Linked DNA regions of Homo sapiens: region 2 is linked to region 1. Evidence: fine-mapped expression QTL. A gene starts in region 1. The other region holds a variant in brackets. All regions are shown on one strand. Distances are from middle to middle. Region 1 holds the start of CACNA2D3 (calcium voltage-gated channel auxiliary subunit alpha2delta 3). Region 2 overlaps CACNA2D3 (calcium voltage-gated channel auxiliary subunit alpha2delta 3).

What was found.
Region 2: its variant is fine-mapped to the expression of CACNA2D3 in whole blood (TOPMed, PIP 0.98).

Annotation. Positions count from the first base shown.
Region 1 is chr3:54,121,101-54,124,007 of GRCh38, reverse strand. It overlaps CACNA2D3 (calcium voltage-gated channel auxiliary subunit alpha2delta 3), which reads right to left and starts at 1,456. Exons shown (of 38, transcript NM_018398.3): 1 at 1,173-1,456; 2 at 414-495. The coding sequence starts at 1,294. LOC124909381 (a long non-coding RNA gene) reads left to right here and starts at 566. Exons shown (of 2, transcript XR_007095914.1): 1 at 566-951. RefSeq lists a silencer at 2,650-2,699.
Region 2 is chr3:55,007,734-55,010,640 of GRCh38, reverse strand. CACNA2D3 (calcium voltage-gated channel auxiliary subunit alpha2delta 3) reads right to left here. Exons shown (of 38, transcript NM_018398.3): 33 at 2,799-2,851; 34 at 1,198-1,253. Among named protein-coding and RNA genes, the nearest start is that of LRTM1, 81 kb to the right of the region's middle. The variant C/A (reference allele first, on the strand shown) is at 1,253.

The DNA.
Region 1 (2,907 bases):
TACACTGAACCCCACGCCTCCAACGCAAGGTGAAAGGCATCACAAAATAGGCACTGAGTCTGCCCCTTGGATGAAGTTAGCATTTTTTGGCCCGAGGAGCATCTGCTCTGGCACTGAAACAGCAATACCGACACGGAGACGAGAGCCATGCAAAAACACTCAGTTTCCGAGCCCCAGCCAGGACAGTGCGAGTGAGTATCCTGCTTTTCTTTGTGGTTAGAATCAAGTGTCATCTAAAAATAACCGGTTGGTAGGAAGAAGTCACTGCATAGTACAATGCCAAGAAACCCGGGGATCAGAGAGTCCTCCGATAACTGATGCTGCTCGGGGCTCACGTTTGTTTGGAAAACTAAATCTGCCTCCATTTTCTGTGCCGGAAAAATCATCGCTTCCTGCCACCACAGAAACCTTACCTTTTGCAGAAGCTGGGAACCGGAGTACTTAGCAGCAATGGATTTTATCTCCCCACCAAAAGCCGAGGCCCAGAGCTTCACCCTACAGGGAGAAGGGGCACAGGAAGATATGTAACACCCGTGTCACAGTCAACACGCACGCACACGCACACGCACACATGGGACTATGGCTGAAGGAGCAGTGCGATGTAACATGTTTTAAAAGAAGAAAAGATAGAAAAAGCGGCTTGGTAGAAACTGCCAGCACCAAAACTGCAAAGCGCAGCGCGGGAGGGGGCCCGAGGGGGGTCGCGGAGTTAAGAATGCGCAAAGTCTCCCAGGCTCTCTAAAAAGACCACTGAGTTTCATTCGAACCACTGCCCGAGGACTCGACCCCCCAAACTGGGCATCACCTGGCAAATAGCAGTCAGAAGAAATCCACCCATCCCCCCCCCAAAAAAAGAAGTGGGGCGGCAGTAGAGCAAAGAGGGGGGAAATTCAGCGGCCCATGGAAGTTGGATTCGGTAACCAGGCTCCAAAGTTGGTGCCGTCACTTGAGGTGAGCCTCTCCAGATCTCACTCGGCAACCTGCGGGCAGGGGCCAGAGCATCCCACCCCGGCCTCGCCGCCCGACGCGGGTCCCGAAAGGCAGGTGCGAGCGGCGAGGCCGACGCCCGCGGCGGGTCCTGCCCAGCCGCACCTGCAGGCGCCCAAACTTGGGCACAGTGGGTCGCAGGCGGCAAGGTCCCCTCCCCGGGCGGCGCAGGAGCCGGCACTTACACGGAGAGCGGTATCTGCTGCTCCGAGCGCACCACGTCCCCCAGCGCGGCGTAGAGAAGCGCGGCAGCGAGAAGCGCCGAGGCCCCCCGGGACGCGCGGCGCGGCGAGCCCGGCCCGGCCATGCTGGGCTCCCTCCGACGCGCCCGCTGCGGCGGCGACGAGAGCGGCCGCGGGGAGCTGCGCGGAGCGGGCGGTGGGCGAGCGCGCGGGGCTGCCTGCTCCGCTCCGCGCCGCCCCGCCTGCCTCTCGCGCGCCCGGCTCACTTGGGGAGCAGAAAAAGGAGCGGGTGGGGGGGGCGGGGAGGGCGGAGAGGAGAGGGAGGGAGGAGAGGTGGGGAGGGAGGGAGGAGAGGTGGGGAGGGAGGCGGGCGGGGGAGGAGGCAGCGAGACGCGCCTCTAGCAGCAGCAGCCGCCCGGCCCCGCCTCGGCGGCCCCGGGGAGTCCGGCGGGCCGCGGCGGGAGGGCGGCGGGGCAGGAGGCGCCGCGCGGGCGGGGACTCGGAAACTCCAGTGTCCTTGGCCGCGGCGGAGCGCGCCCTGCCCCACCCGGGCTACTGCGGCCGCTGAGTTCTTTACAACTCCGCAGTCCGCCACCGCGGGCGCGACTCTGGGGCTGGCCCCGGGCCGGGCGACCCTAGCCAGGGTGGGGGTTGGGGGCGCGGGAGGGAAGCCGAGGGCAGGGCGCGGCGCTCCGCACTTTGCGGGCGGCTGCTAGGAGAGGGCGTAGCATGCCCGCTCCGCCCCTGGGCCGGGCGGGGTCGGGGGCCGCGGAACCTAAAGGGGGCGCGCCCTCCGCCCCCGCCGCGCGATTCTCCTGCGGGGAGGGAGCTGGGGAAGAAGCAGAAATCTCAGAAAGGAGCACAGGCTCGCGGCGGCAGGCGGGATCGCACGCGGGGCGGATCGGGCTGGGGATGGGACTGGGTGGGAGCTCGGGGCTCTGGCTAGGGCAGCGCTGCGTGACCGCCCGCAGCTGCTCCTCCGGCCGCGGCGCCCGACAGGGGAAAGCACGGAGGGCGGTGCTGCCACCACGGCTTGGGCGCACCAGCGCGGGGCTCCCGGCATCCGGCCGCAGCGCAGCGGCCCCCTGCGCGCCCGACCCAGGCCCCGGGGCTCCCCAGCGGCCGCTGCCTTCGGAGTCCGCCCGGCTGCGGTGACTGGTGGGGACCGGGATGTCAGGGTTGAGCGAGGAAGCCAACGCGGCGCCGAGTCGATCCTGACCGGGGGACACCCTGGATTTCGGGATAAAAGATTTCTCCGAGCCTGGGGGATTGCCTGCTCCCCACTCCGGCGCCCACCGCACTGGGCAGGAGGCAGTGAGCGCCGGAGGAGGCGCCTTCTCGCCGCCCTCAGGGGCGAGGAGAAAGGAAGCCGGAGAAGCCCCTGCGCGTTCTGGGAACCAGGCTTCTCCCCGCCTCTCTCGCCGCTGCCCCCACCCCGGGACCCAGCTTGCAGAACCCCTCTCCCCCGTGCGAGGTATGGGGTGTGATTGGGAACTTTGTGGAGCCCTCGCGCAGGCTGGCGGTAAAGACCGACCGGAGTGAGGCTGAGTCATCCTTGCCCGGCCAAGCGCAACTCCGGTGACCCCAGCAAGGAGTGCGCTCCTAACGTCGCCGGGGCTCCCGGCGCACCAGACACCTGGGTTCATATTTGCATGCCTTTCTGCAACCAGGGCTTTGCTTTCTGCCCCGTCACCCGCCCTTGGCCTCAGCATCCTCAGGTTGCAGGGAAGTAAGGGCG
Region 2 (2,907 bases), 890 kb before region 1:
AATAAGAATGGTAATAGCCTACTAGTCCCTGGCCTCCCAAGTAGGAAAATGAACATGAATGAAGGAAAGAAAGAACAGAGTGTATCTGAGAAATAGCACATGAGTGGGCAGGCCTGGGGCAGACTGCTGGAGCCAGCGTTCATTAAGGATCACTGGATTTGGAGGCGATCATCATCATTGTCATGGTCACAGTGTCACCACCATTATAATTACGGATACTCTTTCTTTTATTTATTTATTTTCCTTCCAACTTTTATTTTAGGTGTGGAGGGTACATGCAGGTTTTTTATACGGGTCAACTGCATGTCTCGAGGGTTTGGTGTACAGATTATTTCATCATCCTGGTAGTGAACGTAGTACCCGATAGGTAGTTTTTTCATCCTCACCCTCCTCCCACCCTCCACCTCAAGTAGGCCCCAGTGTCTGCTGTTCCCTTCTTTGTGTCCATGTGTACTCAGTGTTTACCTTACTTATACATGAGAACATGCAGTATTGCTACTATTTTTTGAGGACTTATGTTCCAGTCACTGTGGTCAGCACGTAATATGATTTCTCACAGCATTAAACATACATGCACACACACACATTCACTTGCTAAGATAAATATTATTTTTCCCCATTGTGCTTAGCATAGGGAAACTGAGCCTTGGAGACAGATCAGCTGATATGCCCAAGGCCAACCTCTAAGCTGGGACTGAAACCTATTCTAACTCCACAACCCATGCCTCCAAGAGTCTCTACTAATTACACCCTCCTCAAATCATCAAAGGTATTTGAGAAGGGATAGTAATGTGGTCAGATTTATGTTCTATGAGGGTAACTGTGAAAACAGAAATAGAATGGCTAATCATTCATTTAGCCTGAGACACAGGCAGTGTGTCTGTCTCCCTTCTATTTCAGCATTGCCCATGAGCTTTCTGAAGAATTTACCTGTGCAATGTATGACCTCAAAGCCTTAGTTAAGGAAACAGGTCAAGATGTACATTCAACGTGGGCTGAATGAAGCCTGTGGAATTCTGTGTCAGACTAGATAGCACAGCACTTAGCACAAAGGCTGGCTTTTTGCTGACAGAGCTGAAAAATCATCACTTTGTCCTGGGGAATTTTCTGTGAGCCAGCACATCCCTGATGAAAAGTAGCCAGTGAACCCAGCGCTTATCCCTCCAAGCTGGGAAACAGAAACCAGTTGCTGCTCACCTTTAGCTGTCATATCGGAGTGCCACCAACTGCAGAGGTTAAATTCCACCAGGAA[C/A]CTAAACAGATCGTGGAAAAGCCCAATGTTACTTCGTCATCCATGCCCATATCACAGAACAGTGACTTTCTGTATTCTTTGGCATCGCTTACCTCATTTGAGAACATCACAATTTGGAGATATCAACACAGTTGGCTGAGTTACTACTAAATTTTCACAGGGGTTTATCTTTCTTGTGAAAGGCTATTTTATCCCTAAAGCCAGGTTCACCTAGACTCAAAGATTCCTAGATGAGGAATAACCTGCTGTATAGGCTGAAATACTTTTCTCGTTGTTGTTCACCAGTTGTTCAATCTTAATATCATCTAGTTTGATTCCACAGTAAAAAGCCAATTTCTAATAAGCTTCTCTTCCCTTAGTTCAGAAATACAAATAGAATATTCTCCTCTACCAAGACTATGAACTGTAGTAATAAAACATGCTTTCAAAATGAATACTGCGACTTGAACTTGTTTAAGCCCCCTGTGTGTGTGTGTGTGTGTGTGTGTGTGTGTGTGTGTATAGAGGGAGGTGGAACAGACTTCTCTCTATGAAATTATGTCACAATGGAACTTCATAAAAATCAACATTTCTCAATGGCTGGTAAAGACTACAAAAATAATATAAATTATCCTCCAGTGGATGAAGAGAGATCAAAATTTGGTCATTTGTTTTTCAGGCTTATGGCTACTATTCCTAGCAGCTCTCTCTCAATCAAAATCCCACTATTATCTGTTAATGTTCTTTCTCTGCCTCATGTGTATATGGAGAATTTACTTCCCATTTGAATTCACAAACTTTATTAAATTAATATAGGTTACATTAAGTTAAGAGGACAGTGACTATCCATCAAATGGCATGAAATTTGCCTCAAACCCACAGAACTGGAGTCTGTAGGAAATAAGCAGGGGAAATAAGAATGAGAGAGTTTGGTACAACTTAAACAATCTTGTTTACATGTTCATCTATGTAATTCTTCCCTTTTGTGTGACACGGTGTTTCTGTAATGTGTCTAATATCTAGTCTGAAAGTCAAGACTTTCATCTTTGTGCCATTTCAAGTGTTATCTAAGTCATAGATGCAACCAGCACCTCCAAACAAGACCATAGTTTGACAGAATAAACAATGAAATCATACCTGAGAAAGCCCCCAGCCCTAGCTGACAATCTCACAGGCACCCATTCCTGCACAGGCCAAGACAGCCAAAGTGGCATGGTGGACAGTCACAGCAGTGTGCTCTTCTGACCACAGCCCACCCAGGCTGCAGTAAAATCAGCCAGACATCCATGTGAAATTGAGCAGTAACCACAATAAGTAAATTTGTTGTGTATTGCAAATGATCTGCTAAACGATGACCTAATAGCATAAGGAGTGATCAACAGTCACTTAATAGAAGATCATTTTTTGGTCTCTGTGTTCAATATTTTGAGATGTTCAATGAAGTTATCTCAGAGTACTAGGAATCTAATGGTTATTGAAGGCATGACTCACAATCTCTTAGATCACTTTATGATACAAAAAGGAAAATATTAATACTTTTCAAAAAAATGCAGCAGATTTTACTTACAAGACAAGTTCTGTCATGATCCATTTTACTGCAGAGAGGAAGGCATTATAAGGCTGAAGAGAAGAATTCAGTTCATTAAAAACAATGTAGTGCACACAAAATTTGTAGC